Linked DNA regions of Homo sapiens. The protein of the gene in region 1 interacts with the protein of each later gene in a pairwise test. Each region holds a gene or a part of one and is shown in the gene's direction. Other genes may lie near its edges.

What was found.
Region 2: the proteins of UBXN11 (region 1) and RHOBTB3 interact in binary tests that used the Homo sapiens proteins (3 or more experiments, as listed by UniProt).

The regions. Positions count from the first base shown.
Region 1 is NC_000001.11:26,287,870-26,304,182, reverse strand, and holds part of UBXN11 (UBX domain-containing protein 11), read left to right. Parts: intron 1-1,015; exon of another isoform or gene 1,016-1,140; intron 1,141-1,264; 5' UTR 1,265-1,299; coding exon 1,300-1,370; intron 1,371-2,460; coding exon 2,461-2,489; intron 2,490-3,158; coding exon 3,159-3,257; intron 3,258-6,120; coding exon 6,121-6,221; intron 6,222-6,701; coding exon 6,702-6,756; intron 6,757-7,187; coding exon 7,188-7,264; intron 7,265-9,851; coding exon 9,852-9,978; intron 9,979-16,313. UniProt on the Homo sapiens protein: May be involved in the reorganization of actin cytoskeleton mediated by RND1, RND2 and RND3. Promotes RHOA activation mediated by GNA12 and GNA13.
Region 2 is NC_000005.10:95,729,859-95,746,171, forward strand, and holds the start of RHOBTB3 (rho-related BTB domain-containing protein 3), read left to right. Parts: upstream 1-1,477; 5' UTR 1,478-1,824; coding exon 1,825-1,826; intron 1,827-1,834; exon of another isoform or gene 1,835-2,000; coding exon 2,001-2,226; exon of another isoform or gene 2,227-2,244; intron 2,245-7,030; coding exon 7,031-7,217; intron 7,218-16,313. UniProt on the Homo sapiens protein: Rab9-regulated ATPase required for endosome to Golgi transport. Involved in transport vesicle docking at the Golgi complex, possibly by participating in release M6PRBP1/TIP47 from vesicles to permit their efficient docking and fusion at the Golgi.

The DNA.
Region 1 (16,313 bases):
GGCATTGGAGGCTGCCTCCAGGCAGCATAGATTCCCTTGCTGACTGACTTCAGAAGTAGGGTTGAGGCCAGAACCAGACATCTTCAAAGTGGAACTTCTTGGATTTGTCCTAAAAAATTTGGTCCAGGCTGGGTGCAGTGGCTCATGCCTGTAATCCCAGCACTTTGGGAGGTCGAGGGGGGCGGATCACCTGAGGTCATTTACTGAATAGAGTAGTAGCCTTCGATTATGTCCTTCAGGTGCACTCCTTTTTCCAGAAGGAAGAGGAAAGGAAAGGAAACTAACATTTACGAGTGCTTCCTATGTGGCAGCAACAGCAAAAACAACAGCAGCCCCAACTCACATTTTTCAGTGCTTCCTTTGAGCTTGGCGCTGGGCTAGACCTTCTCTGTTATCTCTGAATCTGCTCAGAACCCTGCCTGTGCCAGTACTATTACGACCCCCATTTTATACTAAAAGAAACTGAGGGTGGGTTACTCCAGTGAGTGGCAAAACCTGGCATCTTAACCTTGGTGTCACATGGACTGTGTCTTTTTTTTTTTTTTTTTTTTTGAGATGGAGTTTCGCTCTTGTTGCCCAGGTTGGTTGGAGTGCAATGGTGCAGTCTCATCTCATTGCATCCTCCCCACCTCCTGGGTTCAAGCGATTCTCGTGCCTCAGACTCCCAAGTAGCTGGGACTACAGGAGCACGCCACCACGCCCAGCTAATTTTTGTGTTTTTAGTAGAGACAGGGTTTCACCATGTCGGACAGCTGATCTCGAACCACTGACCTCAGGCGATCCACCCACCTCGGCCTGTGTCTTGATTGAATCCTGCCTGTGGGTTGGCCTCTCTGGCTCTGAGATGTTGGGAGTGGCACCTGGTTTCTGGTGGGAGGGAAGGAGATACTTGGGCTTTGTGTCACCCAGCTGGCTGATGGACGGACAGCCTCCTGGGTAGTAGCATTTTCAGGCTCTAAGTTTGGGAAAGTTCCAGGCTTCTGACTCATTTCTGCATCCCATCCCACCCTCACAGTACTTTCCCAAGCACCACCAGGCCAAAGGTCTCTCAGTTCAGAGCAGAAAGCCGTATACCCAGAGGAGCAGGCAGATAACAGAAACTTCCAGAAACCTCTGTGGAGACAGTGGAAGAGGCAAAAGGTACTGCTGCCTAGACAGCGCTTCCCATTAGGAAGAGTAGCCAGGGAAGTGGAAACTTCAGGCTACCCCCTGGGCTTGGAGCCCTGAGTCTGTCCCCAGGGGCTGACTTCCTGCATTCCTCTAGGGAGTTCCTGACAGCTGGATTCTAGAAGTAGAACTATGAGCTCACCTTTGGCCTCCCTTAGCAAGACCCGAAAAGTGCCCCTGCCCTCGGAGCCTATGAATCCTGGGTAAGGAGCCAGCCTCAGGGGTCTTTCTGTCCCCGCCTCTGTATCCTCTTCTATCCTTCCATGGCCAGAGGACAGTGACTCCTAGTGTCTTGGGGAATACAAAGAAGGGCCACATAGCCTTCCCTGACCACTGTCTTTTTCTTTATACCTTCTTCTGGGGCACCCAACTTTGGATCTGAGCATAAACTGGGTTGTGCTTTTAGTAAGGTATGGGCCCTGTAGGAGTGGCTTGGCATCCCATCTGTTCATTCACTGTTCATTGATTAATTCTGCAAACACAGATGGTCTACGGACCTATCCTGGGCCAGGCCCTGTGTGGGGTTCAGTAAAGGGAATCTTTTACATCTGTCTAGCACTTTCATGTTTTCAAAACATTTTTTACCTCTCTTCCTTCTTGCTCTCTGGAATACCACTTTGAGTCTTTTTTTTTTTTTTTTTTTTTTTTTTTTTAAAGACCAAGTCTCGCTCTGTCGCCCAGGCTGTGGATTGCAGTGGCACGATCTTGGCTCACTGCAACCTGTGCCTCCTGAGTTCAAGCGATTCTCCTGCCTCAGCCTCAGTAGCTGGGACTACAGGCGCATGCTATAACACCTGGCTAATTTTTTGTATTTTTAGTAGAGACGGGTTTCACTGTGTTACCCAGGATGGTCTCGATCTCCTGACCTCGTGATCTGCCCACCTCGGCCTCCCAAAGTGCTGGAATTACCAGCCACCGCGCCTGGCCCCACTTTGAGTCATTCTAAGGCCTAGAAGATTCAGAGAGGTTAAGCAACAGGCCTCACAGCCTTTGCAGAGCAGAGCTGGGGCTGAGCTCATGGGCTTTGCAAGCCTTGTAGTCTTCCCACCTAAGACTCTGCTCTTCACCCCTTCCCCATCCTTCTCCACTGGGTGAAGTCAGACACCTCGAAGCCTGTCCCTTGTCTCACCCCAGGCTGGGGCTGGGATTTGGGGCTGGAAGTCCTCAGGAGTTAGAGGCCCTGCTTCCATCTCTTTGAGCTTTGGCTGAAGTCCGGTGCCCAGAGCCTTATCCCTGGTATCATTCCAGGGGCCCTAACTTATATTTCTTCCTTCTTCCTGCCTGGGTTCCCAGGAGGCGAGGAATCCGCATCTATGGAGATGGTAAGTGTGCCCCGCCCTCGTGCCCTCTTCGCCTCTCATGTGCTTGCACCTCCTACAGTTGGACCGATGGAGAGAAATCACACGAGAAAGGCCCTTGTCAGCTGGAGCAGCGGCCTCCACCGTGTTCTGTGCAGCTCCCATGCTGTCCTCCCTGAGGGCTGGGCTTCCCTCCTGGAAGCTCTCAGATTAGGAGGCCCCATACCCTTGGCACAGATGTTGCCACTCACATTTGAACCCCTTGACCCACTGTGGGACTGGCCAGTGTGTGCCTAGAAACCAAGTGAGGGCCAAGAGATTACCCAGCCCAGGGGTTTGGATCCCAGCCCCCCTTCCCCCTCCAGCCTCCTCCAGTGTGACAGCCTTTCTCCCGGGAGGCCTGTCCACACATTGCCACCCTGACTCTTGTAGCTCAGGCCTTTGGATCCCTGCCCCCCAACTCTCCACCATGGCATTGGCATTGGCCATGCCAGTCCCCCTGGGAGCAGGACTGGAAGAACTCCAAAACAGCCCCATTCTGGTTGGATCCTTGCTCCCCAGCCTTGTGAATTCTCTCTCCTCAAACTCCCTGGGGCACAGTGCATAGGCCGCGTCACACTGGCGAGGGCCCAGGGCCTGAGTTTCCTCTGGGTCTCCGCCCCAGAGCGGTGACCTAGGCATCCCTGTCTGCAGAAGATGAGGTGGACATGTTGAGTGATGGGTGTGGCTCAGAAGAAAAGATCTCAGTCCCTTCCTGCTATGGCGGCATAGGTGCCCCTGTGAGTCGGCAAGGTGAGAGCAGAGGCCTGAAGGGTCTGGGTCCTGGCTGCAGGAGGGGGCCCCAGAGACGGGGCAAGGCCTAGGGAGGCATGGCCCTTCCTCTCGCCTGTTTGGTCTGAGGCAGCTGCTTCCACTCCTGGCTGATTGTGGCAGGGACCTGGCTTGGCATAAAGCCACACAAGCCCCACCCTTAGCTCAGGAGGCCGAGGCCCAGCCCCAGCCCCAGCCCCAGGCCAGGCTGTGGCTATAGTTACCAGGTGTGATATCAGTGGGCTCAGGATTCAGGGTCAGAGAGGGATGAAGTCTGAGGGTAGAGCTCAGCTTCCTGCTTCTGCAGGGCTCTGGCAAGGCCCAAAGTCGCCTAGACAGTCTGCTTAGCTTGGCAGAGGGCTGTGGCAATGCTGAGCTCATGGAGGCACCTAAAGTGGGATGGGGCTAATCAGGGTGGCTTCCCAGAGTGGGGATTTAGCAGGTCTGAGAAAAGGGGAGACATGGGCAGGCAGGGATGAGCCCTGCAGAGTGCTGGGCGGGATCTGGGGATGCTGGGGATAAGGTTAGAACTTTCCACTAGCTCACTAGCTGTGGTATCTTGAGCAAGCAACTTCGCATCTCTCTGTCTCTGAGGCCTCCTCTGTGAAGTGGGCATGGGAACAGCGAGGGCAGCGTGTTGGGAGGATTCAATGAGATGCTCCTCGGTGGAGGGCCCCTGGCCAGCGCCTGTCACGCGAGGTGCTCAGTGTGGTGGCTGCCCATCAGGAGGCCAGCCATAGGGAAGGGCCTGATGATTCTCCCTCAGGCCCCTTCCATTTTACCGGAGGAGGGAATTGAGGTGGAAAAAGAGACAGGAAGAGCCTGGCCTAAGGTTCTGCGGCCATTTCACCACAAAGCCAAGATCTCCTATACCCTGGCTGGGGTCAACTTTCTTTTTTATTTTATTTTTTTTGAGACAGGGTTTTGCTCTGTCATCCAGGCTGGAGTGCAGTGGTGCGATCATGGCTCACTGCAACCTCAGCCTCCCAGGCACAATCAGTCCTCCTGCCTCAGCCTCCCAAAGTGCTGGGATTACAGGCATGAGCCACCATACCCAGCCAGGTCACTTTCAGTAGTAACCATGGCAACCAGGTTCTCTCTTTGAAAGAGCTCCAGGTGTCCTCTCCCTGCTTTCCCCTGTCATCCCCTCCTCTCCCACTCCCAGCCAATATCTGTCCCTACCAAGGTAACAGATGAGGACTTGCCTATCTTATTTTACTTCTCTGCCAGCAGTGTCCTATACTGTCCACTGCTCCTTCCTTCTCAGGACCTCCACCAAGCTCTTAGGCACCAAGCTGCTGCCCTCCCATTACCCTCTGCTTCTAGGCTCTGTCTCTTAGCTGTCATCACCACCTCCTTTTTTCTCTCAGGTTTTTTTTTTGTTTTTTTTTTTTTTGGAGACTGCCTTGCTCTGTTGCCCAGCCTGGAGTGCAGCGGTGCAAATCACTACTTACTGCAGCCTCGACCTGTCAGGCTCAAGCAGTCCTCCCACTTCAGCCTCTCAAGTAGCTGGGACTACAGACACACACCACCATGCCTGGCTAATTTTTGTATTTTTAGTAGAGACAGGGTTTCTCTATGTTGCTCAGGCTGGTCTCGAACTCCTGGTCTCAAGTGATCTGCCCGCCTCGGCCTCCCAAAGTGCTGGGATTACAGGTGCGAGCCACTGCACCCAGGCCCTCAGCTTTTCAATGTGATGTTCCTCTGGCCTGGATTCTCCTCTGTGTCCACTGTGCCCCAGTGAGCTCACCTGCACTCCATGTGTAGACAGTTCCCAAATGTTTGTCAATTAAGATGCATTTAACTATAAGTCAAAGAAAACCCTTCCTCAGCCAACAAGAACATTAAGGAAGTTTTGTTATCCCACATGCAAAGAAATCCTAAAGAGGCAGCTCCAGGGGTGTTAATTCAGTGACTCCAAGACATCATCAGGGGCTCAGGTTTCTCCATCTTTCCACTGAACCTGCCTTGACATGTCAGCCTCATGTGGTTGTAGGATGATGGCCGCGGTTCCTGCTTCATACATAGAAAGGACACTGTCTAGGGGAAGAAAAGGAAAAGGCCTGCTTCTTCCTGTAGGTTTCTCTTCTTTTCCATTTTCATACTTTTTTTTTTTTTTTTTTTTTTCTGAGACAGAGTCCCTCACTCTGTTACCCAGGCTGGAGTGCAGTGGTGCGATCTTGGCTCACTGCAACCTCCGCCTCCTGGGTTCAAGCGATTCTCGAGTAGCTGGGATTACAGGCACCTGCCACCACGCCCGGCTGATTTTTGTATTTTTAGTAGAGGCAGGGTTTCACCATGTTGGCCAGGCTGGTTTTGGACTCCTGGCCTCAAGTGATCCACCTGCCTTGGCCTCCCAAAGTGCTGGGATTACAGGCATGAGCCACCGCATGCCCGGCCCTGGCTACTGTTTTCTACAGCACCCCGCATTCTGGCTTTGTCTGGCAGTTTGCCCGTGGGGTATTTGCCTCACTCCTCTATCTGCTGTTTTGCGTACCAACTGGACACTAGATTTGGAGGTTTGATTAGATCGAGGGTGAAATTCTTGGCAATGCTTCAGGGTGATGTCACCCATATGTTACACCACTTCCTTGTATATGTTGGACAAATTACTTGATCCCTTTGTGTCTCAGTTTCCTAAAACAGTTCATTTACCTCCTGGGTGTGTTTCAAGGATTACAGGGGGTTGATCTACATGAAGTGTTTAGAACAGTTCCTATGATGCCAGTGGGAGCTGCTCTCAGTACCTTCATTTCCATTCCTGGGACCCCTATCCTCCTCCCTCCCCCCCACAACTCAGCCTCGGCTCTAGGTCTGGGCTCTAAAGACTTTGTGTGCTTGGCAGTCCCTGCATCCCATGACTCGGAGCTGATGGCCTTCATGACGAGGAAGTTGTGGGACCTGGAGCAGCAGGTGAAGGCCCAGACTGATGAGATACTGTCCAAGGTGGGGCTCCAGGTGGGAGAGGGCCAGGGGCCGGTCTGAGAGGTGGAGGGACTGGGCTGGGGAGGCCAGGAGTTGGACTAGGGTGGGTGATTCTAGAACCGTCTACCACACTGACCTGCCCAGTTCGAGGACCAGGTGTGGCCTGGGCCTGATCTAGGTCCTGTGACCTGAGCCGAGAGGCTGGGGGGTCTTCCCCTCAGCTGAGCAGGACCCAGTAGACCCTGGACTGGGTGGCACAGTGGACTGCTGAGCAGAGCGCGGCACCCTCAGATGTGGGGGTCCTCAGGTGTGGGCCGCACCTCTCCCTACCTCAGAGGAACTGCGAGGGTTATCTGAGGTCCGGGAGAAGTGGCTGTGCCAAAGGGTGGCAGGGGCTTGCTGCTCCCCAGCATCCAACATAGGCAAAGCTCTGGAGCTTCCTGTCTGGGCAGGGCTCTGGGAACCACAGGCCCTGTGCTCACCCTGTGTCTTATGCTACAGGATCAGAAGATAGCGGCCCTAGAGGACCTGGTGCAGACCCTCCGGCCACACCCAGGTAGGGGGCTCTTGGAGGGCTGACCTGCGCCCCCAGTCAGGCACCTCCCCTGGGCCCAGGGCTCCTGGAAGCTTCACAATGGCTTCTGGCATCAAGAGCATCAAGCTGACTACTTGGTGGGGTCTGGACAGCTGAGCCCACAGAGGGGCTGCAGCATATCCAGGACAGTGCTGGAGTCACTCCATGCCCTCCTACATGGGACCGAGTCCCATCTGAAGTGTGGAGGAGAGGAGGCTCTGAGGGGAGTGGCAGCCTCCTAGGGCCCATCAAGGCACCGCCACGGGGTCAGAGGAGAGGCCAGAGAGGTGGGGGGCCAAGAGGCAGTTCTTGGGGGATCCCCAGAACAGCTTCTCCAGATGACCCTCAGGGCAGAGGTGACCTGGCAGTGTCTTGCTGGGGCAGCTGAAGCCTGTCCCTGTCTTTCCCTGAAGCCGAGGCAACCCTGCAGCGGCAGGAGGAACTGGAGACGATGTGTGTGCAGCTGCAGCGGCAGGTCAGGGAGATGGAGGTGAGAGAGCTGGGCCCCGGGGGATGCGGGCAGCCAGCAGTCCCCAGCTCTTCACGGCATGTTCCTCAGGAGCTGGGTCCGAGCCCACCTCTCTGGGCCTCTCCTCGTCACATCCCACCCAGGGACCCTGCCCTGCATTTCCCTACCCAGGACTGGCCCAGACTTTAAAGAGCCAGGGAGGTGTCTGGGGCTGGGGCACACCCCTGCTTTTGGGCCCTCTGAACATGCCTCTCCCCTGCTTAGCAGACCTCATGGCTCCCACTGAACTGAATTCTACAGTCCTCGCTGTGGCCCCTGCGGGCTGGCCCCTGCATGCCTCTTCATCTTAGCTTGAACCACTCTCCCCTCCAGCCATGAGGCCCTTCCTCTGGGTCTTTGACCTCATGGAGCTGCTTCCCACCTCAGGGCCTTGGGCCGTGCTGTTGCTGTTCCCTCTGCTGAAATGTTTCCCCACCTCCCCCAGGTCAGTTCCACTGTCCTCAGTCATATCCCCCGGGCCTCCTAGGCAGGTTTTCCATCCCGAGCTTTCTCAGTGCCTCATCTCTCTTCCCTTGTGGGACTCTGAACTCCACGACGGAGGGAGCAGTTTCCTCCTGTATGTCACTGTGCACCCAGGACCTAGCACTGAATTGGTTAAGCAATTTGCTGCCTCTGGCTGTGACTTCTGCTCACTGGGGACTCAGTGACCCCAGTCACCTTTCTTTCCCCCGCTCACAGACCCATTCAAACAGCAAGGGAACTAGAGGGACACCAGGCACAGAGAAGGGTCCCAGGCACGCATGGGCCCTGCCAGAAGTTCTTCCTGGGATTCAGCCTCTCTCCCTCTCCACGCAGAATTGGTTTCCAAAGTCCCAATCTAATTTAAAACCTTGGCAGCAAACCTCCAATTGCAGCTGAGAGCCCTTCCCACTCCAAGCTGTTCATACCTGGGGTTGTCCCCGAGCAGTGGCCACAGGCGGTGAGGGCTGCACCAGAGCCTCGGGGCAGGGGCATGACTGCCCTTGCATGCGTCTCCGCCACACAGTTATCACTTCATTCATTTAACAGCCTCATCTGGAGGATCTGCTTGGGGCAGGCCTGGGGCAGAGCATGACCAAGACAGACATAGTCCCCCGCCTGCATGAGGCTGCCAGTCTGTGGGGAGGGGAACAAACGAGTACACAGGTACACAAGTACAGAGAGTGCTGTGACTTGATGAAATGGGTGACACCACAGAGGCAAGTTGGGGGACCACCTGCGGGGGTGACATTGGGCATGATGTCTGGTGAGTGAGGAGGGGAATGGGGTGAGAGGATCCAGGCCTTAGACAGGGAAGGTGCCACTTCCCGCCACATAACTTGGCTTGCGGTCGGTGGCTGTGTGGAGGAAGGAGAAGAACGGGAAAAGAGAAGAGGTCGTGGGGGCCTTATCACATTGGAGCCGCCCGTGGTTCTGGCTGGATCCTGTCCCGAAAAAATGGGAAGCCATTGGAAGGCTTCTGTTTGAGAGGTGGCATGACAAAAAGACCACCCTGCTTTGTGGGGTTGGGTGGTGTGGGTGAGGAGAGGACGGGGGAAGCAGGCGCCGCCCCTGGATTGTCCAGGAGAAAGATGACGGTGGCTTGAACTAGGGTGGTGGCAGCAGATGGAGCCCAGTGGATGGGTTCCAGGCTGCATTGGAGGGGGCACCACAGGCCTTGTGGGTCATCCTGGAGGAATGGGCGACAGAGGATTCTCAGGTGGAGGGGGTGCCATTTCTGGAGACAGGAAAACCTGGCACGGGGGAGGTTTGACAGGGGGACAAGAGCCACAGCCATTAGACATCCAAGTGTGGACGGTTGGAAATGTGAGTCTGGAGCTCGGGTGAAATCTGCATAAATACAAACTTGGGTTCTGTCGTATATATTTGGGAGAGCGTGTGGATGGAGCTGGGCCCCCATGAGTTGGTGTTGGATAGGAAGGGGAAACGGTGAAGGAAATTGGAAAGGAACAGCCCAGGAGATGGGAGGAAAACTAGCAGATGGTGAAAGATAGACAGAAATGTGCCCATGCGCTTGGCAGCGGGTAGGTTGGTGGTTGCAGCACCTTGAGCAGTTTCAGAGAGGTATGGCGATGGAGCCAGGTTAGAGTGGCTTGAGAAAAGAAGTCGGGGTGTGGACATGTAGACAGTCCAGAAGTTTCCTGTGGCAGAGGGGACATGCGGCCAAGCCCTAGGGAGGCTGGCACATGGTTCACATCCCTCAGCCCTGCCTCCTTCTCACACTTGGGCCAGGCCACGTGATTTCTGCAGCCAAGGAGGCTGACCTTACCGAGCCCTCGCATGGGCTGGGCGCTGACCTGAGTGATCTTACTGAGCCCTCCTCACAAGCTTATGTGGCAGGAACTGTCACTCCATTTTATTAGAGGAGTCGTCTGAGGCTCTAGGGACTGAGGTGGCTTTCCAAGGTCACAGCCAGGAAATGGCAAGATCCCCCTACTCATCCCTTTGTCTGGTCAGCTCTGGGGGCCCCATTGCCTGCAGACTGAGGCTGGGCTTTGGGCTGACACTGCCTTTCCCTGGGAAGGGGCTGAGCTGACGGTGCCCCGCATCTCCCCCTTCTTTCCCACAGCGGTTCCTCAGTGACTATGGCCTGCAGTGGGTGGGCGAGCCCATGGACCAGGAGGACTCAGAGAGCAAGACAGTCTCAGAGCATGGCGAGAGGGACTGGATGACAGCCAAGAAGTTCTGGAAGCCAGGTAGAGCAGGGCGTCTGCCCCAGGCCCTCTTCAAAAGGAATTCTCCAACAGTTTGCTGTTGGCCGGCAGCTCCCCAGAGGCCTATCTCATTCGTGCCCGGGTCCCTGACCCAAGACGCCCTGAGAGCCCACAACTTGCCCCTGAGACAATGTGGGAGCAGCCTTGGCCTCCATCACTGACCACTTAACCTGCTGGCCCACTTCTCCACGGTCCTACCTCTGCTCTCTCTTGCTCATCTGTCAGAGACCCAGAGATACAAGAGGTAGCAAGGCCTTATTTGCCTCAGGTCACATAGTCTACAAAACGCCACCAATCTGGAAGATGTTGCCGTTTTAAAAAAAGGCAATCCTTCTGTTCTAGAAGCTGCTGCCAAATTCCCAGGTTTGGCCTCCCTCTCCAGGTTTGCTTATGGCCCTTGGAATCCACCTGGTTCTGTGGGCCCCTACCATGTCTTTTTTTTTTTTTTTTTTTTTTTTTTTTGAGACGGAGTCTTGCTCTGTCACCCAGGCTGGAGTGCAGTGGCACGATTTGGCTCATTGCAACCTCTGCCTCCCAGGTTCAAGCAATTCTCCTGCCTCAGCCTCCTGAGTAGCTAGGATTACAAGTGTGTGCCAACACACCCAGCTAATTTTTGTATTTTTAGTAAAGACGGGGTTTTACCATGTTGGCCAGGCTGGTCTTGAACTCCTGACCTCGTGATCTGCCCACCTTGGCCTCCCAAAGTGCTGGGATTACAGGTGTGAGCCACCACGCCTGGCCTACCATGTCTTATTTTTAACTTCTAATATCTAGAGGGATTCCTCCCACAGTCCCCTCCTATAGACCCACAGATTTGGGTCCATAAAACTGGCCATTTCTGAAAACCAGGCCCATTCTCTTCAAAGAATGGAGATTGTCACCCAAAAGATGCTTCTCCAGGCTCTAGAGTCAGGCACACCTGGGCCCTCAACTCGACTCTACCTCCTATCCCAAGTGTGACTTGGGCAGATGACCTCTATTCACTTCATCAACAAAACAGGAGTGTTCTTCCCTGGGAGTTACAAGGAGCAAATGAGTTAAACGCAGAGCGCCTAGCTCTGGCCTTGCAGCCATTGTTGTTTCCAAAGTCTGAGGGCAGGGGTCCCACGGGAATAGGAGCACAGCTTCCAAGGGGCCCATTTGGAAGATGACGACACCTTCTTGGTTTCCTGCTAGGTAAAAACCCAGATTCCAAACATGAGAATCCTGCCTCCTGTTTAGGCCTGGGCTCTGGCTGGATCCCCCCAGATCTCAGGGTCTAACGCCCTCACTGCTTGTTCTCAAAACATCACTTCCCATTTTTGTGCCATTTGCAGCTTTCTTTTTTTTTTTGAGATGGAGTCTTGCTCTTGTTGCCCAGGCTAGAGTGCAATGGCACAATCTCGGCTCACTGCAACCTCTGCCTCCTGGGTTCAAGCGATTCTCCTGCCTCAGCCTCCTGAGTAGCTGGGATTACAGGCGCCCACCACCATGCCCGGCTGATTTTTGTATTTTTAGTAGAGACAGCGTTTCGCCATGTTGGTCAGGCTGGTCTCAAACTCCTAACCTCGTGATCTTCCCGCCTCGGCATCCCAAAGTGCTGGGATTACAGGTGTGAGCCACCGCGCCCAGCCATTTGCAGCTTTCAAAGCATTTTCTTTTTTCTTTTCTTTATTTTTCTTTTTATTTTTTGAGGCAGGGTCTCACTTTTGCCTGGGCTGAGTGCAGTGGCACAGTCATGGCTCACTGCAGCCTCAACCTCCTGGGCTGAAGTGATCCTCCCACCTCAGCTGTCTGAGTAGCTGGGACTGCAGGCACGTGCCACCACACCCAGCTGATTTTCTTTATTTTTTGTAGAGACGAGGTCTCGCTACGTTGCCAAGGCTGGTCTTGAACTCCTGGATGCCAGTGATCCTGCTGCCTCAGCCTCCCAAAGTGCTGGGATTACAGTTGTGAGCCACTGTGCCCTGCCAGCATCTTCATAGCCTTGACAGGGGCCAGGAGTTACTCCATTTCACAGATGGGTAAAGGGAGGCACTTAAGGAGTCTGTGGACTCATTATTGAGGGAAGAGGGGCAAGACTTAAGGCTGACAGCCCACTGTAAGGCAGTTGGTCACTGAGGCAGAAGATGAGATGATGCCCAGCTTGAGGGTGGGGATGGTGAGAAGGGATGGGCAGAGAGATTTAAGTAGAATCCGTGGCCTTGGTGTCTTTACATGAGGGAGAGGACCAGAGGAGTCAGGGATAACCCGAGGGAGCACAGCTGCGGGAAAGATGCTGAGTACACTTGGGACACAGCAAAGCTGGGGGCTGTGCAGTCCCTATGATGCTAGGAAGGGGAGCGTGTCCCTGCTGCCCAGGGCACTGTAGGCCCAGGCATGCCAACTCCAAAGCTCTAACTGAACCCAGGGTGGGTGTCGTGGGGAGAGTTCTCAAGGGACCCCTGGCATGAGTGAGAGGTGAGGCCCTATTGGGTGGCTGCAGGTGCTCTGAGAATGTCTATCCTGGATCTAGGCCAGAGGCCCACAAGTGCCGCACCCTGGGCCCTGCTGTGGCGGGCTGGGCTCAGGCTTCAGGTAGGCCTGCCATCTTGTTGCAGGGCAGCCTTCCTCCTGGCCAGGGGGGACCTCCTTGCTCCTTGCCAGGTGGCTGGTTTCTGGACCTGGCTCTGTGGATTCCTACTCTGCCCTGTTTGGTTGTTTGTGCTCTGAGTGCCTCAAGTCAAAGTAACTTGTGAAAAACCCTGCCCTCCATCTTGGAGGCCCTGGCCATATCTGTGGTCCCTCCGTGCGTTCTCTTCCTTCTTTTGTTCTTTGATTTTTTCAGCATGGGCGGGGGGCCTTGATTCGGCTCTTTCTGCCAGATGAATGACGTTTTTCGTCGCTAGCAGCTTCTGTTCCTGGGACATCTCTCCGGCGTCCCCGTTCCTCTCTCCCCAGGTGCCACCCTGCTCCGCCCAGGGGCCTCAGGCTCACAGCCTGGCCCCCGCTGGCCTGCCTGACACTCGGCTGATTGCTCTGCTCTCCCTCTGTTGGAGAGGCTCCCACAGGCGCTGGGGTGGAGGCCTGTGGAGGGTGAGCCAGGGCCGTCTGTGCCGAGCCAGTGGGGTGATCAAACTTCCTGGAGCCTGGGACTCCTAGGGAGGAGGGCCGGTGGGGCCATGAAGGGGCTTGGCCTCAGGCTGGATCGCTCACTCTCCCCCTCTCTCTGCCAGCGTCACAGAGCATGCTGTGCCAGGTGCTTCAGGGTCTGTGGAGACATGAAAGGGACAGTCCTGCTCTGGTCACACGCCACTGGGGCCAGGTGTTGGGCCTCGGGGCTGAGAGCTCTGGTCAGCTCTGAAGTTCTCCCTTCCCCCCCACCCTCTGCATCTCTGAGCTCCTCACTCCTCACTACTTCCCTGTTCCCCTGAGAATCCTCACCCTCTCATCCCCCTCTGAAATCCCCACTTCCCCTACCCAAGTCAGTCCCTGCCTCCCTCCATGGCTCCACCTCTCCCTGCCAGCACCCCACACGCCTCCCTCCTTCCTCTCAAGCCCCACACTCCTGAGTCTGGGTTGGAGGCCCCCTGACTCCGCAGCCTGCGTGACTTGCCCCTGGGCTTGCCCTTCAATCCCAGAGCCACCTGGCTTGACCCCTCCCCACCTGCACTTCTGCCTCCAGCCTTTGCTCCTGCTCTGTCCCCACAGAGCGCCTTGCCCGCTTCCCTCCCCTCTGAAGCTCAGGGCAAATCCAACCTCCGCCAGCAAACTCTGACTGCCCTGTGTGGGCTGTGCTGCTCTGTGGGGAGGGCTCTGCTTGAGGGAAGGGGCTAAAAGCTCTGGCTGAGGCAGGGTTCAGGTCGGGTCAGACCCCAGATCAGCAGATCGCTGACCCCCTCTGAGTTCATTTCCTCCTCAGTCGTGCTGACGGGCTCCTAGGGCCACTGAATGGATGTGGTAATAAACTGTGACAGCCACTGTCACCTAGCTGTTGTCATGCATGTCCCAGTGCTTGGCACATGGGCAAGGGTGTGTGTAGCTGCATGTGATTGGCTGTGATGCCCGTGTGCCCAGGCTTGGATGATCAGAGCACATTGGAACAGTCATCTGCACATGATGAGGTGGGGACAGGGTGGTGCGTAGCTCAATGGCAGGGGCCAGAGAGAGCTGCAGGTGGGACCCGGCAGGCCTGAGTTCAGATCCTGCCAGTCCACAGGCTGGTTGAGTGTTCTGGCGGGGACCAGACCTGCAGGGCCTCCTTTCCTGCACTGGCTCCTCTGAAGAGCAGAGTGACTGCAGTAAAGTCCCCAGAGCGGGGCCTGGCTTGCAGGTGTGTGGTAATAGTGGTTCCACTTCCTGTTGCAGCCGTCTTTGCCTGAGGGTCAAGGGCAGGCACATGGAGGGCGGCACCGCGTGAGCTGCCGGGGTGCCCTGGGCACTTGTGCAGTGAGGGGCTGCCACCTCTCCACTGAGCATGGTAGGGTCTGGCCCTCTTCTGGGCTCCACAGCCCCCACAGTGATACTTACACATGCCATTGTCGCCATTTGCCGCCCCGTCTTCTTCACTTGAGTCTGAGCCTGAGGATGGCAGGACCCTGGGCGTGGGCATCGCCATGATGGGCAGGGCCTAGCAGAGCACGGGTGCTCAGACATTTCTGGAAAGCAGGATCCAACCCTGCTTTTAGTGGCCCAGCCACTCTGGGCCAGGCCCAGGGCTCAATGCTCCTGAGCTCAAGGGGTGCCCAGCATGGCTGGAAGGCAAACAAGCAAGCAGAAAGCAGCGGCCTGTGACGAGGGCCAAGGGAGTAGGTGCAAGGGCTCCAGGCATGCAGCCTCAAGGCAGGTTGGGGGTGGCTCCTAGCAAGGCTTCTTGGAGGAGGTAGGGGTGAGTGGGCACAGCTTGAGCCCAGCGATGAGTAGGCGGTGCTAGGGACAACAACAGCCACCATCTGCCAAACGCTTCCTCCAAGCCTCACAGCAGCCCTGTGAAGTGTGGAAACTTTTATCGTCCTCATTGTACAGAAGAGGAAGCTGAGGCCCATAGAGGCCCAGGGTTACAGAGCTCGGAAGTGCCCTCCAGTGCCCACCAGAGCGCAAGGCGAGGGGCATGTTGAGGGTTGGCTGGGTGCTAAGTAAGGGTCTTGGGAGTTGGGACAAAGAGCTTGGACTTGAGCTCCCTTCTCATTTTAATACACTCGTGGGCTCTCAAAGTTGGATGAGGCCTCAGAGGTGATCTCCCAGCATTGCCACTCTCCCTGGAAAAGGGACCCCAGTAAGCAGCCTCTCAAGAACCAATATTGAGAGGCAGCCTATGTGATCACTGAGCACTGAGGCTGAGTCACTTGGGCCCTGCAAGCTGCATGATCTGGGGCGTGACAGCTCATAAGGCCCAATTTCCTTATCTGTAAAACAGAAATGGTGATGCCTGCCTCCTGGCGCTTGGCACAGGGCTGTCATTTACAGACAGGTTCACCAGCTGGATCTTGCAGGCAGTACAGGGTTCTTACCATCTCCCCATTGCACAGAAAGGATGGCTGTGGCTCAAAGAGGAAGTGCCTTTCCATTTGAGTTCTGCTGCTAGCTCAGGGCAGACCTAGGACTTGCCCTCTGACCTTACTCCTGCTGTGTGACTCCCCAGCTGCACCTCTCTCCATCCACGGGTCAGGCCTCAGTTGAACCCTGGTGGGGTGGTGGGGGCTCACTGGCTTCACAAGGCCCTGCTGTGGTAGCTCTTCCCACCTCATTCTCTCAGTGCTGGTTTGCCCAGAGCTGTGGTTCCTTCTTCCTGGCCCCTGGTCTCATCTCCACTCTATCATATCCAGCATCTGCCTGGGCCACCTGCTTTTACTTCTTTAAGCCAGGGCCATTTTCTTGGCAAGCTTCTCTCTTCCCCTTCGTCGTTTCTTGGCATCCTCCCTGGTCTCACCCCATCCCATGTCAACCACCCATGTTCATCAGCCTGAAAAACCCCCGGCCCTGGGAGGCGGCAGGAGCATTGAATTAGGAGTTGGTGTATTTGGTGCTCTTCCTGGCTCTGTCTGGTCTGATCAGGCCATGTCATCTGACCTTTCTGGGCCTCACTTTCCCCATCTATAAAGAAGACAGAGCCCTGGTAACACAGCGAGACCCCATCTCTACAATTTTTTTTTAAATTAATTAGCAGGGTGTGGTGATGCCTGCCTGTGGTCCAAGCTACTTGGGAGGCTGAGGTGGGAGGATAAGTTGAACCCGGGAGGTCACGGTTGCAGTATCATGACTGTGCCGCTATACTCCAGCTTGGGTGACAGAGGGAGACCCTTTCTCGGAAAAAAAAAAAAAAGGGTTGAGGCAGGCATTGTATGAGATGATCTATTCTG
Region 2 (16,313 bases), on another chromosome or scaffold:
TAAACGCTAATCATCCATTACATGTGTATACCACATTTTCTTTATCCATTCATCCATTCTAGTGTCTTTGTTTTTGACTTATGGGTTTCCGGAAAAGACTGATGAGAAAATATATTTTCTATTAACCCAAGAGAAAAAGTGATCTTGCATGCTGGAATTTTTAAGGATGGTTTAGGTTCTAGAGACTCAAAGAGAAATCGTAGAAAATGCAAAGGGAAATTAGATTAAAAAAAAAAACAGTGACCACATAAAGAATATCTCCCATTATATCCTCTCTGAGCACGAGAAACTATTAAACTACTTTCAACCGAGCAATAAGGGCCCATAATAAAAAGCTGTTGCCCTAGTTTTTTTACTGCCCTACTCAATACCCCCTCTTTCATACCCTCAAAATAGCTCAGCTGAGAAAAGAAACAGTCCAATTTTACAGAAGGGAAAAATAAACAGATAAAAGGATAAGCAAGAACTCTTTTCAACACAGAGTAAGGTACTGGTTAGAATTTTAATACTGTATGGAGGAGTCTAACCCCAGAGTAATCCCTGGCCCATTTTGGTGTTAGTAAGTGGATCCCAGTGTTCGTTTGTATCGAGGTAGTTTGAAGCACGTTAGGGATATTCATAGCCTTTACTTCAGTGCATTATTATGAAAGAATCTAAAGTATCTTTGCATTTACGTGATTATGTTTTCAGTTGGTCTGCGGAGCTATTATTAAATATGTGGCCATAACGTGTACAGAAAAATCTCCAAGTAAACTGGCATTTAACTTACCAACACGTTAAACCCCCATACATAACTTCCTTTAAAAACGATCACACTAAAAATCCCAGCATTTAAAATCCTGAAGTTTTCGGTAAAATACGCTAAATATAGCTTGAAATAGTAAATAATCCCCCCAAGGCGACATTAGCAAATTAATTGGTGTGTGAACAAAGAACTCTTTCTGCAGCAGCATGAATGTTGCCTTTATTTTTTCTCACAAGTATGATTTTAGAAAACAGCTGTAGCGCATGTTGACAAATGAGAAAGCGGCAGACGTGGTAAAGCACTTTCGGTCAAGGCCAAGAGGGGGGGAAATCGGGTTGCTGGGGCGGCACTCGGGCTGGAATCCCTAGCTTCCCTAACCTCCTTTTTCCAGTCCGGAGTGAGCGGGGGCCCCATCGCCCCACCCCCCTTTCCTGGCTCTGGTTACGGCCTTGCGAGTTGAACAAACTTGCTGCAGGCGGATTGGCGGCTGGGAGCTCTCGGGCTGGGGCGTTGTATTTATTAATTTATATTCCGCGGCGCCCCGCGCGGGCGGCTCCTTTGTGTCCAGCCGCCGCCACCGGAGCTCCCGGGGCCTCCGCGGGGAGCGCGTCCCCCGCATCCGCCCGACCCCCGGGGCTGGCACGTGCTGCGCCCGGTCCGCTGAGGGGGCGGAGGCCCCGATCTCCCCGACCCCCCTTCTCTGCTTAGAGGAGGAGGAGCAGCGGCAGCGGCAGCAGGAGGCGACAGCTGCCAGCCGAGGAGGCGCGGCGGAGAGGGGACTGCGGTCAGCTGCGTCCACTTGGGGCTGTGCGGCGGTCCCGCGCCCGGCGATGTTCCCGGGCACTCCCTGAGTAGCGGCAGCTTATCCCCCGCCCGCTAGCCCGCCCTGGTCCCCGGCTCGCTCGCTGGCTGGCGCGGCCCCGGCCCCGCTCTGCGTCGGCCCCGCCGCGGTGGAGGCGCGCGAGGGGGACGCGGCCGGGGATGAGCGGATTGCGGGTGAACTCGCCGCCCGGGGGCCCCGCGAAGCCGTGAGCCGCTGCTTTTCTCCGAGTCGCCGCCCTGCCCTTGGATTTGAGATCATGTACGTACGCGCCGCCGTCCTGCCATTGTCTCTCTCCAGCGCGTGCCGTGCGCCCCAGGGACAGGGGCTGGTGCCCATCCTCGCCGCGCGCTGTCCCCCGCACTTCCTGTTCCGAGGAGAGACCCGCGCGCTGACCGTGCTTCCCTTCTCCCCTCGCCCCCTCTGTCCGTGCAGGTCCATCCACATCGTGGCGCTGGGGAACGAGGGGGACACATTCCACCAGGACAACCGGCCGTCGGGGCTTATCCGCACTTACCTGGGGAGAAGCCCTCTGGTCTCCGGGGACGAGAGCAGCTTGTTGCTGAACGCGGCCAGCACGGTCGCGCGTCCGGTGTTCACCGAGTATCAGGCCAGTGCGTTTGGGAATGTCAAGCTGGTGGTCCACGACTGTCCCGTCTGGGTAAGGAAGAGCAGCTGCTCCGCGCTGAGGCTGAAGAAGCTTTTCTTTCCTTTTTTTTCCCCCTCCCCCTTCTGCCCACTTCCGTGAGTGTGGAGTGTCCGCGTTACATGGGTCAAATTTTTAAACATTTTTGAGAAAATCTTTGGTCCTTTGTTTCACTGGGCAGGGAACAGCCCTGTCAGAGAACACTCTTAGGAAGATAGAAGGCCCCAGTGGGAATGTGGAGCACTTACTGGTACACTTCACGACTGTGGGTTGACCCTTGGTAGGCAGCAGACAGTTGAATGTGCCAACTCCAAGGGACGGGGTCACTAAGTTTCATCAGCAAAAAGCAGTGTTTTTTTATGTCTACCCTATGGGTGATAGTGTAATATTGGTGTTCTAAAAATACATCCCTCTCAAAGCTCAACACAGGCAAAAATACTTTTCACTGGGACAGTTCAGAAATAGTTCCTCTGGAAAGCGGAGGAAAAGACAGGGACTGGGAGTTAATTTTAAATGACTCATTTATAGCACTATTAATTGATCTCTGAAAACTTAATTTTAATAATGCAAATACTCTTTATGTGTTAGCCATTTGTCTTAGTGACTCATAAATCAGAAATAACATTACTAATGTTGTTTGGAAAACTTTTAAAAAATTAAAATTTGTAATAATTGAACAAAATAGTAGTGAAGTGGATAAATTATAGTCCGATTCTTGAGTGTTTGATTAAGGGAGAAAGGAACTTACTTTCTGACACATATAAATATTTTCAGCATACAATAACATTATGTTTGAATGTTTTCCTTTAGTCTTATTTGAAAATCTTTGATTCTTTACTGATATTGGAGTTACGTATGTTTCAGCTAAATGTTACATTTAATAACAGAAGAAAGTTTAGTGCCTGAAAAGATACAAATTATCGTTGTGTAAGATTTCACATTTAAACAGCAATATTAAAAAAACTGAATTAGGACTATAGGAAAGTATCACGCCATTCTAAAAAATGTGTAGAATATACTTGGAAAAATTTCTTATGCAAAGTTCCACATAACAGAACGAAAAGATCACTCGCTCGTGTAAGTTTTCAGTTAAAGAAGAAAGTTATGTTAATTTGGTAAAATAAAAAACAGGCCTTTTCAATTAAGAGATACTATTAAACCCCTAGTTATGATAGTGATGATGCTGTTCATAAGAAGTATTGATGGAGAACTTACTGGTCAGAGTCTATGCAGGCAAATGAAACACTTCTTTTACTTGGGATCTTTCGTTGTGAAAGATCTTACAGCCTAAAAACATGACGGTTCAACATGCAGTTGAATAAATGTTTAGCGAATCGAGTAAATGTAGGGAAAATAAAACTAGCTACATTAGGATGTTAGGATTGCTTTCCCGTATTTAATTTGAGCTGTTAACACTTTCCTGTTTATACTGTTAATTTTGCAAACAGTAATGCTTGTGATCCCATACACTTTGTCTAGTAAAATGAAATCTTCCAAATGGAGAAAATAAACCTCTATAGTACGGATTTTTGCCATATGCTGGTTGTTATGGTTTATCTTGCTAATAACTTTTTGTTTGGTTAGACTCTGGCCCTATTTAAGGCACCAAGTTTGTAACCAGGTACAATTTTCTAGGTTATAATGATCTTCAGATATGAGATTCCATTTCTAGAGTTGCTCTTTATAAGGTGCTTTTCTTCACTTGGTGGTAAGTAAAGCCCATCAGAGATTCTAAAGCTGATTGCATTAATCAACTGTTATTTGACGTATGTACGGAACCAGAATATTAAATATAGCAGAGCAGATAGAGCATAGCCTTTGATATCAAAAGGATCTGATTTCAGATTCCCACATTGCCATTTCAGGTCTGTGTGTCCTTGTTAAATCACTTACCTTCTCTCAGCCTTATTTTCCCTATCTATAAAATAATATGCCTCCTAAAGCTGTGCTGAGAAGTGAATGAGAAACTAGCACGTGTCAAGTTCTAAGTATAGAGGCTGGCATTTAGTAGATGCTCTATAAGTGGTAGCTAATATAAAAATAAAGTGTTACAACTTTAGTTATGTATCACTTATATTAATACTAAGCAAAAGTAAGATTTTCACAGGTCATTCAAGATTTATACAACTACAGTACCAGTACACTGGGGCAGCGATGTTCATACTTCATACATGCAGCCCCACAATCAAGTAAAATAAAATAGTTTCACTGTAGAAATTCAGATTTTTTTTTTTAAAAGATGAGTTCAATTCTCCAAATGTGGCTCCAAGCCTTGTGTTGCATAACCCCGAGAGGAAACCCTGGAACTGATTTACAAGGGGTGGGAGAATTTGATTTTCTTCATAATTCTAGAAATCTTTGGAGTATTTTCTCTTTGGCATAGTTTGAGAAGAGATGTGTTGTTGTTGCCTTGAAGTTGAAATGAGGTAGCTGTGTTTCCCTTCCCTAGTTCTCTTCTATAGATCCTTAGCCTTACCCTGGATCCTTGCCTTATATACTTGGCACTTTTAAAACAAATGTGCTGCAGATTCATTAGATGTAGCACATTATTTAGTGTGTCTTTCTCTCTCTTTCCCATCCGTTTTTTTGGTGTGGTACATTATTATTTCATTTCACGTTTCTATATCTTTTACTGTTTATTAAAAATATTCCACAAAAAGCAGTGAGGTAGTTTAATAGATTTACAGTTTTCTTTGCAGGGTTTGAAGCTCTGATTTGGATTACAAATTAAGTATTTATAGTCTTCACATCCTCAATCCCACAGAGTTAAGGATGCCCAGACCCATTTTTTCATAACATTTTCCCTTAAAGGTCCTCCCCTTCCCCGGATACCTCTCCAGTAACTCTGGAATTTTGAACTATTTGGAATTCAAAAAGCAGCTACTTTTGATTTATTCTCTCAGAGTTAAATGGCTGCTTAATATTGGCCCCACTTTTGTTTAGTTTTTTATCTCATTTGTCTTCCTTGTTATACTTACGCACTCTGTTATACTTGGATACTTTGAACTTGAACGCTGTAACAGATGCAGTTGGAACTGAATGAGCTGTGTGGTTTGGGATTTGGCAGTTTGAGAGTTCTGCTGGGAAGCTTTCCCATTTTTCTGCACTGTGTCCCACTTCCCTTCTGCCCCCTTGCACCCTCTACCAAGTTCAACCCTTTGCCTTTGTTGTTTATAGTCCATATTTTGCCTTTTTTTTTTTTTTTTGGTTCTTTTACCTCCCTTCAAAAATACTGTACACATCCCAGTTTTGATAGGGTATTCATGACAAAAAATTCTGCAGTTCTTGTTACTCTGAGTGTACTTGTGGGAAATGAGTGGCTGGGAGGGTATGGGGAACTGGGGGAGGCACTGATGAGAAGAAGCTCTCTCTTCAGAAGGGCATTGCTGTGTGATACTCCTCCAGAATGTGCCATCGTAGGATAAAAGCTCTGTCACATAGACCTTGGTTGGCTGATTCAAACACTGTTAACCCTGTTTTAGACTCATATTTCAAAGTTTGAACTTTCTTAGCTCAACAGCTTTTGGACCTGTTAGTCAGACCTAGCTATTTTCTTAATCTAGCTTTATTACATCCTAGAAATGTGTACCAAAGGCCACATAAAAAGACAAATGATTAATAGTTAACTAGAATGTGAGAAGAAAACTACTTGTACATTATTTGGTAGTGGAGTTAAGATACCTAAAGATATTTTCCTTACATCACTATTCATACAGAAACTGAAAAATTATATGTAAAATATCAACCCAGGCCAGGCACGGTGGCTCATGCCTGTAATCCTCACACTTTGGGAGACCGAAGTGGGCAGACTGCCTGAGCTCAGAAGCTGGAGACCAACCTGAGCATTGTGGTTGAAACCCCATCTCTGCTAAAGTACAAAAAAATTAGCCGGAATGGTGGTACACACCTGTAGTCCCAGCTACTCGGGAGGCTGAGGCACAGGAATTGCTTGAACTTGGGAGGTGGAGGCTGCAGTGAGCCGAGATCGCACCACTGGACTCCATGCTGGTCGACAGAAAAAAAATCAAAACATTATATTTTTAAGGAATAGTGTTTGTAATAAATTACTTACTGGCCCCAGTTCTAAATAAATATAAATGTTATTAGCTGTAGCACAAAAGTAAATATTTCAGAACTAGAAGAGTTTATCCTGAATTTTTAATTTATGTAGGCAAAATACGTGAATTGAAAATATATTCCTTACCATGTTAACACCTTGTAATACACAGTATCTCTTTTTTTAGTAAAGGAATTTCTCCCTCACCCCACATTCATACTCTTTATATACAGTACTGTCCAAAGGATGGATAAAGTTGAAAAGTATACATGAATTTTGAAAATATGAATAAAGTATATGGAACTTCACAGAATTTAAAATGTATTGCAGTTCAGAACACTGAAAATCCTGCAGTGTCTAACTGGGTCAGAGGAAAACCTTTGAAGCTTCGTTACTCATACTGTTGCTCTTCCATCTAATGCCATAATGTTACACTTTTGAATTTATGAGGTGATAAAAATATAGTGTAATTTTAAAACAAAGGGCTTATTTTTAAGTGCAAATAGTGAAAGAGGTTGCTTATTTTATCTGACTCTCAAGAATTCTCAGGTTCTCCTGTTTAACCATTACATAATTGTCCAGGCTACATGAGTAAGTAAACATTTTTAAAAAGAGAGTTGGCAGACTGCAACACTTTTAATTTCAAGTAGTTACTTATTTTAAAATAATTTTTTATGAATTCCAAAAATTAATGTCATAAATTATTTCAGGATTGATTGGACGATAAGTAGACTAAAGATTGCTATTTGCATTTTGGTTTAGGACATATTTGACAGTGATTGGTACACTTCTCGAAATCTAATTGGGGGCGCTGACATCATTGTGATCAAATACAACGTTAATGACAAGTTTTCATTCCATGAAGTAAAGGATAATTATATTCCAGTGATAAAAAGAGCATTAAATTCAGTTCCAGTAATTATTGCTGCTGTTGGTACCAGACAAAATGGTAAGTATTTAATATTCTTTTTTGTAGTGAGCATGCAAATATTATATATACTTTAAATAGTGCTAAGTTTATTAATGGATAATAGGGTTTGTTTTTGAAAACCAAAATGACTTTGGTTCAATGCCAGCTGCTATCGCTTCATCATTTGATACGATAAAAAAACAACAAAGGAGAGGATCATGAACTTCTGCTGTGATTCCACTGGGTGCAAATCTGTCTTCTAAATGGCTCTTCTACAGTAGTGATGGAAGTCAGCAATTGTATTATTTTGACATATGAGAGGTATTAGGCTGATGCTGAGCCCTAGAAAACTCTTTTTGATGATCTGAAGGTCTACCTGATTGGGAAGGATAGATTGTTCACATGAAGATGTGGGCTTGGGAGCAGGATTTTTAGGTAGATAACAATGAGTGAGCTGGAAACACTGACAGTGCTGCCTAAAAGAAAGGATTGCTTATTCCATGGCTGATAGATTCATTGGGTTCAGGCTGCTTCAGCCATTGCTGCTGTGCATATTATTGTCAGATATCTTAGGGCCAACTCAGGATTCAGTTTGATTTGGTGGTATTTTACAGATCTTCTTAGTGGTATTTCCTAGTAAAGCTATTTTTAAAATTTTATTTTTACACATTATTCTAAAAACTTTTAAATTGAGGTATTGCGAAGTAAAGGACATAAGGTTTACTGATCTTAGAGTGCAGCTAAATGCATTTTTACCTATGTATACAGCCACGCAACCCACATACATCAAGGTATAGAACATTTGCAGCACTTGAGAAGGCTCCCTCATGCTCTTCCCAGTTAATAACGCTCCTCCTCAGAGGTAACTGCTATTCTGACTTCTAACAACACAGATTAGTTTTACCTATTTCTGAACTTCATACAAATGAAATTATATGGTATGTAGTAGTGCCTTAGGTTAGGCTAATTTCAGTTAGCATAATACTTTTGAGATTTGTCCATGTTGTGTTTATCTGTAGTTTGTTCTTTTTATTACTATATATTAGTCCATTGTATGAATATGCCATAATTTATTTATCCATTCTTCTTTTGAGGATGCTTAGGTCGTTACCCAGGAGCGGGATTGTTGGGTCAGAGGGCAGGTATATATATAGCATTAGTAGATACAAGTAAGGCAGGCATGACCTACCCGTGACCCCATATCCCCTCTACTTCCCTATCTTTCTTTTTATTTCTGGTCATGATTCATAAAAGAGTTATCTGCACTTCCTGAGTCCATTTCCTATTCATTCTTCAGTCCGCTACAGTCTGACTTTGACTTTCACAAGTGCACCAAGTTTGTTCTCCCTCAGGGTCTCCAGTTGCTGTGGTCTGAATTTGTTCCCCAAAGTTCATGTGATGGCACAGTGTTGGGCAGTGAGACTTTAGGAGGTAATTAGGGCAAGAGGACTCTGCCCTCGTAAATGGATTGATGCTATTATCTTTAAAGTGGGTTAATTATCATGGGAGTGGGCTCCTGATAAAAGGATGAGTTTGGCCCCCTTCTGCCCTCTGTCTTGTGAGCTCTCTTGTACTTCTGCCTTCCACCATGGGACGATGCAGCAGGAAGGTCTCACCAGATGCTAGCACCTTGATATTGGACATCTCAGCCTCCAGAACTGTGAGAAATAAATTTCTTTTCTTTATAAATTACCCAGTCTGTGGTGTTCCATTATAGAAGCACAAAACGGACTAAGACACCACTTATGTCCTCGTTAGCCAAATTTAATACACTTTAATAACAATTATCTCTTATCGAAGAGATAAGAGATAATAATACTTATCTCTTGTTGAAATTATTGAAACATACCTCTCCCTCCATTTAATAAAGCTACTGGTTCTTTTAACTATCTGTCTCCTTTGCCTTTCTCCCCTCCTCCCACACACACACAGCAGAATTGTTTCCCAGGGTTCCGTCCTTTGACCTCACCTGTTCTTACTCTTCAGCCAAACCATTAACCTGCTAATCTGTTGTCCTGGCTTCTCCTATATAAACACCGATAACTGTTCAGTCTGTCTCTCTGGCTTTAGTCTTGCTCCTGGCACATATCACCATAGACATCATCTTCCTCTGGCCAAATTTCCTGTCTTGGTGAATGATGCCAGTCCTATCCATTCACCCAAACAAGAATCATCCTAGACCCAGCCCGATTCCGCATATCCAGTTGATTAAGAAGCCCTTTTGCTTTTACATTTTAAACAAATCTCAAACTCATTACTTTCTCTTCATCTCCATTGGATTTCGCATTCTAGTCATTTAGTTATTTGTCATGGTGGCCTTCTTTTTGGTCTCTTTAAGGGATGGTTTCAGATTTTGTAGGGCCTCAAACTTACACAATTTGGGAGGTCCTTCATAAGGAAAAAAACCCACAAAATAACAGATACATATATGTACAAAAGTAAATATTTAGAATGATAAGTGAAAGCACAACAAATTACAACTAAAAAGTTGTCAAATACTACAGACATTTTTAAATGTATGTATATATTTTTGAGACAGGGTCTTGCTCTGTTGCCCAGGCTGGAGTGCAGTGGCATGATCATAGCTCACTGCAACCTGGACCTCCTGGGCTTGAACGATGCCCCCCACCTCAGCCTCCTGAGTAGCAAGGACTACAGGCACGTGCCACCACACCCAGCCAGTTTTTTTATAGAAACGAAATTCTGCCGTGTTGCTCAGGCTGGTCTCCATCTCCTAGACTCAAGCCATCTGCCCCCCTCAGTCTCCCAAAGTGCTGGGGTTACAGGCGTGAGCCACCACACCTGGCAACAGATCTTTTTAACAGCCTGATACTTCTTCAACTTTTCTTATGTTTTTTGGGTGACCATAGTCTTTGGTCATCTCTTCATATGATAACCACTGATAGGTTATGGCTGTGTCCCCACACAAATCTCACGTTGAATTGTCATAATCCCCATGTGTCATGGGAGGGACCTGGTGGGAGGTGGTTGAATCATGGGAGCGGGTTTTTCCTGTGCTATTCTCATGATAGTGAGTAAGTCTCATGAGATCTGATGGTTTTATAAAAGGGCAGTTCTGGTCATGCTCTCTTGCCTGCTGCCATGTAAGATGTAACTTTGCTCCTCCTCCACCTTCCATCATGATCATGAGGCCTCCCCAGCCATGTGGAACTATGAGTCCATTAAACTTCCTTTTCTTTATAAATTACCCAGTCTCAGGTATGTCTTTGTTAGCAGCATGAGAACAGACTAATACAACCACTTTATGATATTTTCTATAGAGATGAGAATGATAATCAGTGGAATCTGATTATCAGTTATCACACACTCAACTATACATGGAAGTGACTATAAACCACAAATAGTTCATTAAGCCTAAGGTTAAATTCCCTTTGGCAACATCCCCCAAATGCCCACAGTTACTCCAGAGCTGCCTGATACAAGATGAAGTGATTTGGAGTGGAAAGAGACAATAGTCTTGACTAAATATCTTAGTTTGCAAATTTTACAAAAGAATATGACCATGTGAAGATATATTGCTCAGGTTCTTCCTGGGGCTTGGAAAGGATCCACAAGAAAAGAGTCTTGAAGCTTGAGCTTCATCAGCTTTATGGTAAATTGGCCTCTGGTGTGCTATTCCTGGTTTGTCTCTTTCTGAAATAAATTCTCTCAGAATAGTTATCCTAGAATACAAGTCAGATCATGGCGCTCAATGCTTTGAATTCTTTGAGAACTTTCTTCTTTGCCTCTTATTTTGCAAAATTTCAAACCTAAGAAAGTTGACAAGAATAAGACATTGAACCCTAGATTTTATAAACACACACACACACACTTTTTTTTGGCTGAACTATTTGAGAGTGAATTGTAAACATTATGAGATTTCTTTATTCCTAATTACTTTAGCATGTATCATCTAAGAACAAGGCCGTTATCTTATTAAGCCTAATACAATCATCAATCAAGAAATCTAACATACTATTACATTTTTACTATTATTTAAGATATAATCTGGCCAGGCGCAGTGGCTCACGCCTGTAATCCCAGCACTTTGGGAGGCCGACGCGGGTGGATCATGAGGTCAGGAGATCGAGACCATCCTGGCTAACACGGTGAAACCCGGTCTCTACTAAAAATATGAAAAATTAGCCAGGCGTGGTGGCAGGTGCCTGTAGTCCCAGCTATTTAGGAAGCTGAAGCAGGAGAATGGCACGAACCCAGGAGGCGGAGGTTACAGTGAACCGAGATCGCACCACTGCACTCCAGCCTGGACGACAGAGCGAGACTCTGACTAAAAAAAAAAAAAGAAAAGAAAAAAAAAAGAGATAGAATCCATATTTTCATTTCCCCGGTTGTTTCCTTATAATGTGCTTTATAGCTGGGGTTTATCATTGTTGTTGTCTTTTAACCAATCCAGGATGCAATTAAATATTACACATTACATTTAGTTGTTATATCTCTCAATTCTCTTTTTTTTTTCTTTCTTTCTGTTTTTTTTTTTTTTTTTTTTTAGAAACAGGATCTTGCTGTGTTGCCTAGGCTGGTCTGAACTCGGGCCTAAGCAATCCTCCTGCCACAGGCTCCCAAGTAGCTAGGATTATAGGCATGCATGACCACATCTGCCTTCTAATCTCTTTTAATCTGGAGCAGTACGCCCAGTGGGTTTGGGGGGAGGGACCGTGTCTGTCATAATATGAACATTTTTAATGAGCCCAGGCCCTTTAGTTTGCATAATTCCTTCATTTATGATAAATGTGCTTGCAAAATAGTGATGTTTCTATCGTTCTTCCTATACTTATTGGTTGATATTCTTCTGTAAATGGAGCTTTCCTTTTTCTCTGCTCCCAAATTTTTCTCTTAGAATTATTATGATTCATGGATTTCTATTTTAAATTCAGTATTTTGTGATCTGTTCTGATTATTCTTTTGGATGCTCACATTGCTCCATATTTGCTTGCAGGGAGTCATTTCAAGCTACCTCTAATCAGTTTTTAGCCCCTTCCTTATTTTCTGGCACAAGATATTCCAGGCTCAGACTTTGCCTATCCCAGTCCTAGAATCAGCCATTTCTTCAGGAACTCTGGTTCCTTCTAGGGGGCAATGATATTTAGAAACCAAGGTCTGGGCTCTAGGATGCTCATGACTTTAGGTGTCTTTACTTCTGCGCCCTTTAATTGGCTAGAGCTAGGGATTATACTTTTTATTTAAATTATGGGCACTGATGCCCTTATTTCAATCTGGTATTCGTATCTCATTTCAATAACTTTTTCTTGTAAAATCTTTACCTGAAATACAAGATCCTTCATGAGGTAGCCTCTGACTGTTTCTATAATCTTGCAGGGCACAATCCCCTGCCTTATGTATCAGTCACACTGAACTACTTGAAAAACTTAATGTCTTTCTTTAGGTCTAGGAAAGTCTTAACTGTGTGACTTCAGATATCACCATCCATCCATTTTCTCTATTCTCTTCTTTTGGGACTTTTGTTAGACTGATGTTGGAACTTCTGGATCTCTTCTCTGATTATTTTATCTTTCTTTTATATTTCTTATTGCTTTATTTCTTTGTGTTGCATTATGGGAGAGTTCCTTGGCCTTTTCTTCTGGTTCACACATTAGTTCTGCTGGGTCTGTTCTGCTATTCTGCCTTATTAAATTTTTTATTTCAAAAGCTTTTCATACCAGATCTCTAATGGCTGTTTTCATAAGTTCTTGTTCCAATCTTAAGGATGCAAACTTTTATTTAAAAAAACTCTCAGACCAGGCGCAGTGGCTCATGCCTGTAATCCCAGCACTTCGGGAGGCCGAGGCGGGCGGATCATGAGGTCAGGAGATCAAGACCATCCTGGCTAACACAGTGAAACCCTGTCTCTACTAAAAGTACAAAAATTAGCCAGGCATGCTGGCGGGCGCCTGTAGTCCCAGCTACTCGGGAGGCTGAGGCAGGAGAATGGCGTGAACCTGGGAGGCGGAGGTTGCTGTGAGCCAAGATTGCGCCACTACACTCCAGCCTGGGGGACAGAGCGAGACTCCATCTCAAAAAATAAAAAAATAAAAAATAAATAAAAAAAACTCTCAGGATAATTAATGATGCTTAATAATTCAGTTTTGATTTTTCTATTAAGTTTGGTTTTAAGATGGCATTATAAGTCGTTCTACTTGATGAGATTTTATTTTATGGTATGGATACTTCTTAAACATTGGGGAATTCTTAATTTGCCTACTTTTGCAGTTGACTTTCCTTGTTGGATTGATGCCTTCCTCTTTCTCTGCCCAGCTGCTGTCTGGGGATGGGGGTGTAAGTAGGAAAACACCCAGGATCAACAGGCTTGGCTGCTTCCACTGGGGTTCTCCCACTCATCCCCAGTCATTTGCCTTTGGGCCGCCTCCTCCTTGTTGCTCCCTGCATTGTTGAGCAGGGAGCACTCTAGGTGTGGCTGCAGTGTGAGCCTGTACTCAGAGCTTCAGGAGGCCTCTTCGGTCCTGTACTGCCTGCCTTCATTCTCTCAAGCACTCCTAGTTTCTGGGCTGATGAGGTTTCCCCTCTAGTTTTTGAGTGTTGCTGTGTATTCAGTCCTTCCTGCCTCCCTCCCTGTCTTTCTCCCTCCCTCTCTTTCTCCTTCCCCCTTCCTTCTTTCCTCCCCTCTTCCCTCCTTCCCTCCCTTCTTCTCCTCCCCCCCATTTTTTTTTTTTTTTGAGACAGCATGTCACTCTGTTGCCCAGGCTGGAGTGCAGTGGCACAGTCTCAGCTCATGGCAACCTCCACCTCAGGTTCAAGTGATTCTCCTGCCTCAGCCTCCTAAGTAGCTGCAATTATAGGTATGAACCACCATGCCTGGGTAATTTTTGTATTTTTAGTAGAGGTGGAGTTTCATCATAGTGGCCAGGCTGGTCTCGAACTCCTGACCTCAAGTTATCCACCTGCCTCAGCCTCCCAAAGTGCTGGGATTACAGGCATGAGACAATGCACCTGGCCCCTCTCCCCCTTCCTTCTTTCCTTCCTTCCTCCCTCCCTCTCTCCTTCCCTCTTCTCTCCTTCCCTCTCTTCTTTCTCTCCTCCCCCCTTCCCCCTTTATTTCATCATCTCTGTGATTTGGCAGGGAGGGGAGATCACAGTGTGGGCTTAGCTTTCCATCTTGAAACTGGAAATGAATGTTTTCCTTTCTTCTCACATCCAGTCCCCTGTACATGCTGTATTCTTAACTGTAGTGCCCCTCTACACAGCCCCTATCATATCAGCATAGCAAATTCACACTTATCTTTTAAATCATTACACTTTCTGTGAAGCCTTCCGTAATCCCCCCAGACAGTTAACTTTCTCTCCTCTGTTGTGTGGTGGCTTTGGACATCTTTATTTCAGTGCTTATTATGTTATATTATAACTGTTTGCAGTCATGTCTATCTTCTCTCAGTTGACTATGAGTTTTTATATCATTGCATTTTTATATCCCTGGCACTTGATGTGTGGTAGGTACTCACTAAACGTTTATTCAATGAGTGAATGGTTTTATGGATGATCTGAGTAAGTGAAAAAATCAATTTCACTAACAAGATGAAATTAATTTGCCATACAAGATGTAATTACAAAGTAATTACAAAGCTAAATCTGGCTATTCAACTCGAGGACCTATATTGGCTTCCCCCCATCCATCCCTTGGAATACATGAAACTGTGTTGGGTGCTCTCCTGGTAATTCCCTTGGAACTCTTTTTAACTTTTTGTTTGTTTGTTTGTTTTTTGTTTTAAATAGAGATGGGGCTGGCCACGGTGACTCACGCCTGTAATCCCAGCACTTTGGGTGACTGAGGTGGGAGGATCACTTGCGATCAGGAGTTCAGGACCAGCCTGGGCAACATGGTGAAACCCCATCTCTAGGAAAAATACAAAAATTTGCCAGGTGTGGTGATGCACACCAGTAGTTCCAGCCACTAGGTAGGCTGAGGTGGGAGGATCACTTGAGCCTGGGGGAGGCAGAGGTTGAAGTGAGCAGAGATCATGCCACTGCACTCCAGCCTGGGCGACAGAGTGAGACCCTGTCTCAAAATAAATAAATAAATACATAAAAATTTAAAAAAATTAAAAAAATGGAGATGGGATCTCGCTATGTCAACCAAGCTGGCCCCCAACTCCTAGGTTCAAGGGATCCTCCCACCTCAGCCTTCCAAGTAGCTGGAATTAAGCACACGCCATCATGCTCAGCTTCTTGAAATTCTTTTTAAAGTTAAAAAGAATTCAGCCAAGTATAATCCAGTCTCATTTCTTTCCTTTGTTACACATTTTTGACAACTTTGACCCTATGGATGTCTTCATCATACTTGGCTCTGAATAAATTTTCGGCTTATACTAAATATTGAATCTATCTTGAAAAGAGAATTTTTTTTCAGAATGTGCTTAGAATGTATTCATAGGTTTAAGCTCCCAAAGACAGGCATCCTTTCAGTTATTTCTGAAGCTCTGGTAGAGCCTGGTCCTTTACTAGGCTAGAATTTTTGAAAAGAATTTCTAAAACTTCCAAGCAGTGGCAATGTTGTAAGAATTAACCTGCAGGTTCCCAAAGCCACTACTTTTCAAAGATGTTATCCATTTGAATGTCAGAGTTACATTGTGCTTGCTTTTAAAAAAAAATAGACAGCATTTTATGATAACATCTTAAGCATATAAGGGAAAAAAAGACTATAATGTTAGCTAGAAGTGTAGCACTCATTCAGAGTCACGTGACCATGCCGCACCACAATTTAAAATTAGTTTGAATCCTCTGCTTGTTCCTGATTAAATGGTTAATGTAAATTAATTTAATTTAGAATCGGTTCTACTGCTATAACCAATACAAGCCAGACTTCTACTTGGAATCTTAGATCATATAGCTGACTGATATTGAAGAATATAGGAATGGTTCAAAAGAGAACCACAAAGTAACTATTAAGAAACAAAAGCCTCTCAAGAAGGTTTTAAGAAGTAAGATTTTAGAATCCAGATAAAGGGTAGGTAGCTAAGTGGCAACACAGTTACAGCATAATATGGTGTAGAAAGACTAGACATTTTTTCCTTTCTGGTGAGTGAACAAAAACAAATGTCTTCAGTGACATAGAAGAGATACAGGGGCACTTTCTAGGAACATGTGTAGGTAAGTTGCTTACAA